Homo sapiens: one gene and its partners. The protein of the gene in region 3 purifies or fractionates together with the protein of the main gene of each other region. This does not show direct contact. Each region holds a gene or a part of one and is shown on either strand. Other genes may lie near its edges. The genes, in order: GLB1, LYZ and KHK.

Region 1 (3,649 bases), on a different chromosome or scaffold from region 3:
TCAAACCCTGTCTCGCCACATACATCTGTGAGATCTGGTAAACCGGCAGGATGACAGTATATTCCTCAGTGTTCTTGTGAGGGGCAAGTGAGTTAAACATAAACTCAGAACTGTGCATGGTGTAGAACAAGTCCTCAACAAATGAGAGCTACTGCTCCATGTCAGGACAGGAATATCAGAAACACCACATCCTTTCCTATCTGTGCACATACACAGCACACACACACGTGCATGCCTGACTACTGACATGTGTATAGGCCTGTACTGTGTGAATATGTGAAGTTCTTATGTTGAAACACACAAAACGGGATCCAATTTAAGGTAATCTGTTTTTTCATGTATCAAAAAATTTGCATATAAGTATAGATCTCTCACCATTTTAGTGGCTAAAATACTATGCTTCTATATAGATATACCATACTATGTACACTGTGCAACTGTTAATCATTTAGATTGTTTGCATAATTGTTTTGAGCTGTATTTATAGGTTATCTAGTCCAAAAGCAAGTCAAATAACGATCAGAAAAGCAGCAGTCCACAGATCAAACCAAGACTATTTTCCATCCTTTTGAACTTCAAGTTAGTGAAGTGGTTTATTCAGCCCACTCAAGTCTAGTTATGATTTAAGTCAGACCATATAATTCAATACCTGCACATTAAAAACAGTGACATCATCATTTGAGTACAAATTTTATTTAACAAAAAGGTAACATGATTCTTCCAAAATAAAAATCACTACCACCTTTAAAGCTTCCATTCCAGCCCTGCAGATATGTATGCACGTTACTGTGCTGTCAGCCCCTCACACATTCCAGGTGGTCCCTGAAGGTGGGGCTTTGGCACTGCAGGGATGCAGGGAAACCTCAGGTGAAAATGCACATCCTAAATTCCTTTTCCATTTCCACATTCCAATCAGTGAAATGTGGCATGACAGGGAGGATCTGTGAGGTATGTTCAGGGTAGAATCCCTCAAAGACACAGGCTTTCATCATCATACATGGTCCAGCCATGAATCTTTGTTTTTTTGCGGGGGTGGGGGCATGAGTCTTTTTTCAACAGGTTTGGAGGGATGATCGTAGGTCACAGATGAGCCAATAACTGGCCTGTCCACGAACGTCACAGCACATAGTTCTGGATCATCACTGCTGCAGGGTGCCCACTCCAGTTCCAGCACGGTGATGGTGTTTGGGGCCGAGGTCATCAGGATGTGCTGGGGCACAAACAAGGTCAACTGAGGGCCCCGGGCTGGCCAATAGCGGCCAAGGTTAAAGCCATTAATCCAGACCTGGCCCTGGAGAGAGAGAGACAGAGAACCATCAACCCCAGATGCACCGAAAGCCCTGAGGAAGGTGGGGGCCCTGATGTAGGGCAGGCCAGCAGCAATGGAGGAAAGAAATGCCCCCAGAAAGGCGAGGCTGACAGCCAGGCCCATGCCAGCCTTGGTTTTAGCTTCTTGCTGGGATAACTGGCCAAGGTGGGAAGAAGGTGGATGCCCCCATCCACCTTCTTTGGGGCAACAAAAACTTGCCCCAAAGACCCACTCCTGCTTCAGGAAAATACAGGTTTGGTCCCTCTGACGGGCTTCAGTGGCCACAGATGTTGGTACCAGAGAACAGTGTGGAAATTTCTGAATTTCATCCTGGTTCCCAGGTGCTGCCTGTACCCACAGACCAGCCTCTCCCTGACTTTTCTGTACACAGAAGACAACTGCTGAACTGCTTCCTTAAATAGATCTTTTCCTTCTTTGTTCTCCTTTCCCAGAGGCAGGTCTTGACCTCACTATCTGCTGTACACCTGGTGAACACAGGGAACAGAGGACTCCAGGGCCTGCATCCTGAGGTCAGACAGGTACCAGGAGTGGTCCCCAAAACAACCCCTCAAGAGGGATAGGGGGGTTTGGGGTGAGGGAGAGGAAGAGGCTTATCCAGTTGGGTGTCTATATTACTGCTATGTTCTAAGGACTCTTACAGGCACCCTCAGAGTTAGGGTGTGGACTCCATGTTTGGTTCAGGAGCAGAGGTGATGCTATAGGTTGCATAAACAATTTCTGTGAGTAGGGGAAGCTGCTTCCCATAACAAAACTGAAAGTGGAGGATAAACTCCTAAAAAACAGGGACCATGTTTAGGTCTGTCTACACAGCCTCTCTGTATGTGCTAAAATTTGCTCAAAGGGGCTGAGTGCAGTGGCTCATGCCTGTAATCCCAGAACTTTGGGAGGCCAAGGCAGGCAGATCACCTGAGGTCAGGAGTTCGAGACCAGCCTGGCCAACATGGTGAAACCCCGTCTCTACTAAAAATACAAAAATTAGCCAGGTGTGGTGGCACATGCCTGTAATCCCAGTTACTCAGGAGGCTGAGGCAAGAGAATCACTTGAACCCAGGGAGGCAGAGGTTGCAGTGAGCTGAGATTGCGCCACTGCACTCTAGCCTTGCGCAGTGACAGAGCAAGACTCCGTCTCAAAAAAAAAAAAAAAAGATTTGCTCAAAGCTCAAAGGCTAGGATCAACAGCTGGCTGAATAGATGGACCATTCTATTACAAAGAAAGAAAGTGAAGATGGGGAGATCACATACACGCAAAAGAAAGAGAAAATCTGGGAGAAGAAAGGAAAACATAAAGGGAGAAGGAAGAGGAAAGAGGAATGGAAGAAGGGAGGGAGGCAGGAAAGAAACTGTGACCTACAATGGCCCAGATATCCTAGGAGACAGCCTGGAGGAGGCCCAGCCATGGCTGACACCTGCTGAGCCCTAATCCTCATCACGTTCTGCAACACAACTCTGCTGCTCACCCCAGGGCTCCTCAGTCTTCTTACGTTTGGGTATTTTTCAGCCTCCAAGTGTCCCCTTTACTTTAGATCCTTCTGAATTTCCTACCTGAGTTCGTATCTGTGTCCTGCCACTTACTAGCTGTCTGACCTTGGGCAGGTCTCAACTCAATTTTTCATACCAGTCATTGGGGACAATGATGATGAAGGAACAGTGTGTGGCCTGTAAGCGGTAGCACTCCTTACATGATTAAAGTGAAAAGATGTTGGTGTTCCAATGCCTACAAAAGAAGGGGGTCCGTGATTAAAAACCACCTGTCTGTTGGATTAAGTCATTTAGAAAGAGGACGACAGTTTCACAGTTCTCAGAACTATTTCACTCTTGTTTTTACCCTGGGATATGTTATCTCATTCCATCCTAAAAGGTATATACAATGACAGCTTTAGCAGGTTTTTATCAGCTTAAAATCTGCCGGTGCCTTGTTTTTGCAGTATTAGAGAACAGTAGCACTTTACTTTTGCGGTCAAGGGGGAAGACAGAGAAGTGGGAGGGCATTACGAGCAGCAGCCAAGGAATGGCACGCACCACACAGGCTTCATGCTATGGTCAGGACACAGGCCAAGCCAACTCTTGACCAAATCGCAGGTGAACAAAGTGGAGGTTTGGTCCTTTCTCAAACCTCAAGTTCCATTTCATAAGCATCCAAGAGATGGGCCCTCACATGCCGGGTGGACTGTGCACCTGGTAGGTAAGCTGGGAATTGTTTTCCCTGGATCCCCTTCCCTGGATGGTTCTGGGTTAGCGTTGGTCAGAAGAGGCCCTTGCTTGAGATTGGGAGGGTGGAGAGAAGCAGCAGCCATTGCTCTGGGGAGGTTATCGTGCAGT
Region 2 (4,243 bases), on a different chromosome or scaffold from region 3:
TTTTAGTAGAGACGGAGTTTCACCATGTTGGCCAGGCTGGTCTTGAACGCCTGACCTCAGGTGATCCACCCACCTCAGCCTCCCAAAGTGCTGGGATTACAGGCATGAGCCACTGCACCTGGCCCTATTTATTATTGAAGAATCAAAATTAGGCCTAGCCTGAAAAATGAGATTATTCTTGATTTTTGAACAGGGTCCTTGAACTGTCATTTAAAACCAAATCTGGTAATCTTTAGAGGCCACTGATGAAAAATAAGGGTAACTACAAAGTGATGACACTTTGTGTGGCTCAGAATCTGTCCTCTTAGGCAGATACAGAAGTGCAGTTCTTTTTGAGTTCTGGTAGCATTGTTTTAAAAGCTGTGCACAGCCTCCTGAGATTGCTATTTTCAAAGGTAGCATTTAGTTGGATATATGTTTGGGTAGGTTTTATTTTTAAAATGCTGTTGCTTTCTAATGACCCCTTATGTTCTAATATGGAAAGGGGAGGCAAAGTATTGTGAAAAGTAGTTGGTAAAGTAGGCCGGATGTGGTGGCTCACACCTGTAATCCCAGCACTTTGGAAGGCCGAGGCGGGCGGATCACGAGGTCAAGAGATCCAGACCATCCTGGCCACATGGTGAAACCCTGTCTCTACTAAAAATACAAAAATTAGCTGGGCATGGTGGTACATGCCTGTAGTCCCAGCTACCTGGGAGGCTGAGGCAGGAGAATTGCTTGAACCCGGGAGGCAGAGGTTGCAATGAACTGAGATTGCGCCACTGCACTCCAGCCTGGTGACAGAGTAAGACTCCATCTCAAAAAAAAAAAAAAAAAGGTAGTTGGTAAAGTTGTTCACATGAACCTTATTTATAATAGTAAAACACTGATTTATAATAATAAAAAATTTGCTATAGTAACAAAAAGAGTCTAGAGTAAGAAACTAGCTGAGCAACGTGGTGTCACACTATACACCCATTAAGACAACAGGCACATGTGTCATGTCCATTTTGTGGAAAAGATATGTAAAATAATTTTAAGTAAAAAAGATAAATATAAAAAAGTGAATGCATACAAAACAATTTCACAAAATTGAATGTTACTCAAAAATCACAGCTCATTTTAAGCTGCACAAAATAGTCATTTTTTTCTTTATAATTGCTCAAATTCATAATCAAACAGAAGAAAGTTCCTGTCTTGGAAGTAGTGCTATGCCCCAATTCTTCCAGAGCCAGTACTTTAAACAATTCCATTTCATTATTTTCCTGTAGACTAATTCTTAGGACATCAGCATATCTCTCTTCAAGCATTAAAAAAATCTCTTTAGAGTCAGTGGATCAATAGACAGTTCCTGTTTTCCACACAACTGAAAGGGTGGAGCCCCCAAACCACAAGGGGAAGAAGGAAGTTAAAAGATGTTAAATACTGGGGCCAGCTCACCCTGGTCAGCCTAGCACTCTGACCTAGCAGTCAACATGAAGGCTCTCATTGTTCTGGGGCTTGTCCTCCTTTCTGTTACGGTCCAGGGCAAGGTCTTTGAAAGGTGTGAGTTGGCCAGAACTCTGAAAAGATTGGGAATGGATGGCTACAGGGGAATCAGCCTAGCAAACTGTAAGTCTACTCTCCATAATTCCAGAGAATTAGCTACGTATGGAACAGACACTAGGAGAGAAGGAAGAAGAAGAAGGGGCTTTGAGTGAATAGATGTTTTATTTCTTTGTGGGTTTGTATACTTACAATGGCTAAAAACATCAGTTTGGTTCTTTATAACCAGAGATACCCGATAAAGGAATACGGGCATGGCAGGGGAAAATTCCATTCTAAGTAAAACAGGACCTGTTGTACTGTTCTAGTGCTAGGAAGTTTGCTGGGTGCCTGAGATTCAATGGCACATGTAAGCTGACTGAAAGATACATTTGAGGACCTGGCAGAGCTCTCTCAAGTCCTTGGTATGTGACTCCAGTTATTTCCCATTTTGAACTTGGGCTCTGAGAGCCTAGAGTGATGCAGTATTTTTCTTGTCTTCAAGTCCCCTGCCGTGATGTGGGATTTTTATTTTTATTTTTATTTTATTTTATTTTATTTTTAAAGACAGTCTCACTGTGTGGCCCAGGCTGGAGTGCAGTGGCATGATCTCAGCTCACTGCAACCTCTGCCTTCTGGGCTCAAGTGATTCTCGTGCTTCAGCCTTCTGAGTAGCTGTGACTACAGGTGTGTACCACCACACCCAGCTAATTTTTTGTATTTTCAGTACAGATGGGGTTTCACCATGTTGGCCAAGCTGGTCTTGAACTCCTGGCCTCAAATGATCTGCCCACCTCAGCCTCCCAAAGTGGTAGGATTACAGGTGTGAACCACTGCACCCAGCCGACATGGGATTTTTAACAGTGATGTTTTTAAAGAATATATTGAATTCCCTACACAAGAGCAGTAGGAACCTAGTTCCCTTCAGTCACTCTTTGTATAGGATCCCAGAAACTCAGCATGAAATGTTTTATTATTTTTATCTACTCTACTTGATTAACTATCTTTCATTTTCTCCCACACAATTCAAGATGTGCCATGAGGAAAAGTTATTTTATAGTTTAGTACATAGTTGTCGATGTAATAATCTCTGTAGTTTTCAGATTGAATTCAGACATTTCCCCTCAATAGCTATTTTTGAATGAATGAGTGAAGGGATGAAATCACGGAATAGTCTTGTTTTCAAGATTCTAACTTGATATCCAAATTCACCTTTAGATATTATAAGAAAATTTCTATCAGAAAATCCTTATGTTTTTCTGATTAAAAAAAGCATTTTTCCATCAGCCTATGTATCTGCTATGAATTTACAAAATCTACTCAACAGCTCTGTTGATTTTTCTGTTCTTGGCTGAATGTTGCCTGAGGGATGGGAGCACGGGAAGGGTAAAAGCAATGGAACAAACATGTATTTTAATATTTTAAAAGTATGTTATATTGTTCGTTGGTGTTACAAGATGATTTGCATTACAAAAGGATTCTCTTACAAGTCCCTTATCTTAACACTAAAGTGCTAAGATATTTTATAAGTAAATCTTTATACTTATAAAACAAATCAGTAAAATAGAAGTAGCTAAGTAGAACTGATTTTGCTATAGAGTATAAGTCACTTAGTGTTGCTGTTTATTACTAAAAATAAGTTCTTTTCAGGGATGTGTTTGGCCAAATGGGAGAGTGGTTACAACACACGAGCTACAAACTACAATGCTGGAGACAGAAGCACTGATTATGGGATATTTCAGATCAATAGCCGCTACTGGTGTAATGATGGCAAAACCCCAGGAGCAGTTAATGCCTGTCATTTATCCTGCAGTGGTAAGACAAGCTAATATTTGACCAATCTGGTTATACTTACAAGAATTGAGACTCAATACAAATGAAAAAGCCTTGAAAGGTTCATGAGGGACCTAGAAAAACTACATCTCAACTTCCAGAAAGTCATTATTATTTTCCTCATAATTCCCTGAGTAAGAAATTAAAGAAGTGGTATCATAAAAGGTTGATGTTTTTTAATATACAGAAGTTTCTGGAATGACCTATTAATTTACTGTCAATGGCCTTACTGATGCTTTGTCCAGAACAATGCCATTGCTCCTGCTTACTTTGGGGAGGTTTTGGGATAATTTAGTTGTATGGTCCTTTTTCAATTGTTTTACTTTTTTTTTTATGAAATGTTCTAAATGTATAGAAAATTAGAGACATTAGTATAATAAACAGCCATATGCCCATTATGCACTTTAAAAGTTGTTAACATTTTGCCATAGTTGCTTCTTCTATGCCTTTTTTTTTTTTTTTTTTTTTTTTTTTTTTTTGCTGAGAGTTTTTTGTTTGGTTTTGTTTTGTTTTATTTTGAGACAGGGTCTCCCTGTCCCCAGGCTGTAGTGCAGTGGCACCATCACAGCTCACTGCAGCCTCAAGTGATCATCCCACCACAGCCTCCCAAGTAGCTGGGACTACAGGTGTGCACCACCATGCCTGGCAAATTTTTGAAATTTTTAGTACAGGCAAATTCTGTGTTGCCCAGGCTGGTCTTGAACTCCTGAGTTCAAGCAATCTTCCCACCTCAGCCTCCTTAAGTGCTGGAATTACAGGCGTTAGCCACTGTACCTGGCTACTGCTGAGAGACTTTTAAGTGAATTAGGAACATGATGATATTCCATTTCTAAATTCTTTAGTTTACATCTTCAAAAAATACAGTTCCTGTAGAATTATTATTGTAAATAACAAATTAACTTAAGGA
Region 3 (3,649 bases):
ATCCTAAGCCAGAGCCACAGTCCTGCCTCTAGCTCAGAGGAAAGGAGCTATTAAAGAGGTTTAATGAGTCACCAGCCCTTGGTTCTGAGCCGTCCTGTCCCATCTCACAGGGCAGATTCTCTCCCTCTATTCTCTTCCTGCCAGTTCATCAAGGCAGGGAGTTTGGCTGTAGCTCAGGTGGTTGGACTCTGCCAGCAGCCCCCTTCAAACCAGGGTTCAAAGGGCTGCCCTTCACAGGCCAGCAACCTGGCAGCCTGCCCCCGTGCCCACAGTGTGCAAAGTGTGGGCCTCACCTCCCGATAAGTGCTTGCTGAGTCGGCAGCGCCAGGGGTCAAAGGGCTCTGAGGTCCCTGCAGCAGCCAACATGGAGGGCGTGCATGAGCCATTTAGGGCTATAGCCCTGACAGCCGGGGAACTGGGAGGTGTGGGTTCTGAGCCCAGCTTTAGCATGTGGCTTCAGGGTGTCCTTGAACAGGGTACTCTCACTGCTTCAGTGAACAACAGGGACATGAGCACCAGCCCTGCCTCTCAACTGGGACAGAAACTGTGGGCCTGGACCTGGGGGAGGATGGGTACCACGTGTCCCTAACTGCCTTCTGCCTCAAGCATGGCCAGGATAAGGGACTTAAGATAAGGCAAAGGCACATCCACCGCAGAGTCTGCAGGAAGCAAGGAAGGAGAAAGGAAGAGGCTGAAGCAGGCTCCAGAAGTGTCCAGGAAACAAGCTGTGGCAAGGAAAGCTTCACAGGGGCAGCATCAGCCCCCGAACCGCAGAGAGGCCACGCCAAGGCAGGGCTGGGCGTCTGGTGCTCCGCCATGCCCCCTCCCCGCGTTTCTGCTGGACACAACCCATTTCTAATCCCCCATCCACCCAGGGTGGATACATCCTTCTTCTCCCACAATGATGCAGGCAGGCCTTCCCCAGTGGGCTCTCCCTCCTGGACTTACTCAGCAACATGGCCAGGAGCCATTGAGCCCATGAAGGCACAGGGGGCTCCGAGCAGGGAGAGAACGGTGCAGGAGTTGGACGCGTTGCCTCCGCGCTGCCATCTCTGGGACAAACACCTGCAAAGCACAGGGAGGGTCCCTGCAGCCCCAGCAGGCTGATCCCAAGCACAGTCTCCTGTATAGGGGCCTACAGAATGTAACAGCTGGGGACTCCTCTCAGAAAGCATCTAGGCCGACGTCTCACTTTGTACCCGGGGCAGCCGAGGCCGGCCAAGGGAAGGAGCTTGGCTGAGAGCGGTGTCTACCTCCCCAGCCCAGGCTAAATTCAAGCTGACAGCAGTTCCTTTCAATATTTCCATCTGTTCCTAGGGCAACAGGAAACCACTCACTTGGGTCCATCACTATTCGAGAGACCCACTAACTCCAGGTCATCTCCTCCTCACCTTTCACCCCAGTCAGAGCTGCTCCAGACGCTGCACCTTTGGCCTCCTCCTTGAGAGCTGGAGCAACTCCAAGGACCTCGGGGACTAAGTGCCTCTTCCCAAAGGTATCACATTTACACCTACCCCTGTGTTAGGAGTGTCTACTTCAATAGAAACTGCAGAGCTATAAAATCAAACGAGTAAGACAGGACAGCAAACCTGGACGTTGGTCGTTTAAGAAGTGGCAGCAGGGAGCACTTCTCCATCTTTACTAAAAACCAACCAAAAGGAAACTAACAAGACACACGTGAAGGGCTTCATTGTCATCAGCAGCAAAAATGATAACTTCCACATAGAGGGTCAACGCACTGATCCCCTCACAGTGTTACTGGAGCCCAAATGAGAAATCATTAATGAATGTTATTACCTTTGAGGTAAGAATGGTGGTGTTATTTCTATTGTGCCAGTTCCAATAATAATAATAATTGTGGCAGTTTACAATAAAAGGAACAGTACCAAAGAACCACGAATTAAGAGAAAAAACCGAACCAGAATTTTTAGGCCAAAGCATATTTGTACGCGAAACTTCAGTTTTGGGAAAAGGGGAGCACGATGTCATTAGAAAAAAAATGATAGTAGGACAGGCACAGTGGCTTATGCCTATAATCCCAGCACTTTGGGAGGCCAAAGCAGGAGGATCACTTGAGCCCAGAAGTTCGAGACCAGCCTGGGCAACCAAAGGGAGCTCTTGTCTCTAAAAAAAAAAAAAAAATTAAAAATTAGCTGGGTATGGTGGTGCATACCCGTGGTCCCAGCTACTCAGGAGGCTGAAGTTGGGGGAGCGTATGAGCCCGGGAGGTTTAGGCTGGGGTGAGCCATGATACTGCACTCCAGCCTGGGTGGCAGAGTGAGATCCTGTCTCAAAAACAACAATAACAACAATGACAAAGGATAGTAATTTTTTTGTTTTTTTGAGACAGAGTCACTCTGTCACCCAGGCTGGAGTGCAATGGCATGATCATGGTTCACTGCAGCCTCAACTTCCCCAGCTCAACTGATCCTCCCACCTTAGTCTCCCAAGTAGCTGGGATTATAGGTGTGCATCACCATGCCCCGCTAATTTAAAAAATTTTTTCGTAGAGATGGCATCTTCTTATGTTGCCCAGGCTGGTCCCGAACTCCTCGGCTCAAGCGATCCTCCTGCCTTGGCCTCCCAAAGTGCTGGGATTATAGGTATGAGCCACTGCACCCAGCTGGTCAAAGATTTTCAAGCTGGCCGGGCGCAGTGGCTCACGCCCATAATCTCAGCACTTTGGGAGGCTGAGGCGGGTGGATCACGAGGTCAGGAGTTCAAGACCAGCCTGGCCAAGATGTTGAAACCCTGTCTCTACTAAAAATACAAAAATGAGCCGGGTGTGGTGGCAGGTGCCTGTAATCCCTGCTACTCGGGAGGCTGAGGCAGGAGAATCTTTTGAACCCGGGAGGCAGAGGTTGCAGTGAGCCAAGATCATGCCACTGCACTCCAGCCTGGGTGACAGAGTAAGACTTTGTCTCCAAAAAAAAAAAAAAAAAAAGAAAGAAAAAAGAAAAAAAAGATTTTCAAGCTGAGCTTTACAGCTTTACAGAAATTTTTACGAAAAGATATGAAAAAAAAGGAGGAATCTCGAGGGATCTGACTTGATCAATAGTTAAGGACAAAGCTGATGTGGGAACCCAATTTCCTGACCCCAAAGCCATTGCTAATTACTCCGTATTTTAAAACTAAAAGTTGTTAGGCCCAAGCATTGAGGTTTCTAAGAAAGGATATAGAATTTTACTCTGGGGAAACCCTTCAAAGTCACACTGATATTTCCTGTGCAGAAATGCTCAGCTAAAGGCTGGGCGCGGTGGCTCACGCCTGTAATCCCAGCACTTTGGGAGGCTGAGGCAGGCGGATCGCCTGACGTCGGGAGTTCGAGACCATCCTGACCAACATGGAGAAACCCCATCTCTACTGAAAGTACAAAATTAGTTGGGTGTGGTGGCACATGCCTGTAATCCCAGCTACTCGGGATGCTGAGGCAGGAGAATTGCTTGAACTCTGGAGGCGGAGGTTGCAGTGAGCCAAGATCGCACCATTGCACTCCAGCCTGGGCAACAAGAGCAAAACTCCAACTCAAAAAATAAAAAAAAGGACACGTCCCAGGGGTCTGGCTGAGCTCCAGGTGGCGGCTCCCAAGAGTCCCCAACTGCCTGTCAAGCACAGAGACCCTAGGACAGGTGGGGCTGAGACACCCAGG

The links.
Region 1: the proteins of KHK (region 3) and GLB1 purify together in Homo sapiens (affinity purification with mass spectrometry; 2 studies listed by BioGRID and IntAct, with this or other methods). This does not show direct contact.
Region 2: the proteins of KHK (region 3) and LYZ purify together in Homo sapiens (affinity purification with mass spectrometry; one large-scale study listed by BioGRID and IntAct). This does not show direct contact.

Annotation. Positions count from the first base shown.
Region 1 is NC_000003.12:32,996,054-32,999,702, forward strand, and holds the end of GLB1 (beta-galactosidase isoform a preproprotein), read right to left. Parts: intron 1,292-3,649; coding exon 992-1,291; 3' UTR 564-991; downstream 1-563.
Region 2 is NC_000012.12:69,346,955-69,351,197, forward strand, and holds the start of LYZ (lysozyme C precursor), read left to right. Parts: upstream 1-1,426; 5' UTR 1,427-1,454; coding exon 1,455-1,590; intron 1,591-3,153; coding exon 3,154-3,318; intron 3,319-4,243. UniProt on the Homo sapiens protein: Lysozymes have primarily a bacteriolytic function; those in tissues and body fluids are associated with the monocyte-macrophage system and enhance the activity of immunoagents.
Region 3 is NC_000002.12:27,089,748-27,093,396, reverse strand, and holds part of KHK (ketohexokinase), read right to left. Parts: intron 1,066-3,649; coding exon 949-1,065; intron 1-948. UniProt on the Homo sapiens protein: Catalyzes the phosphorylation of the ketose sugar fructose to fructose-1-phosphate.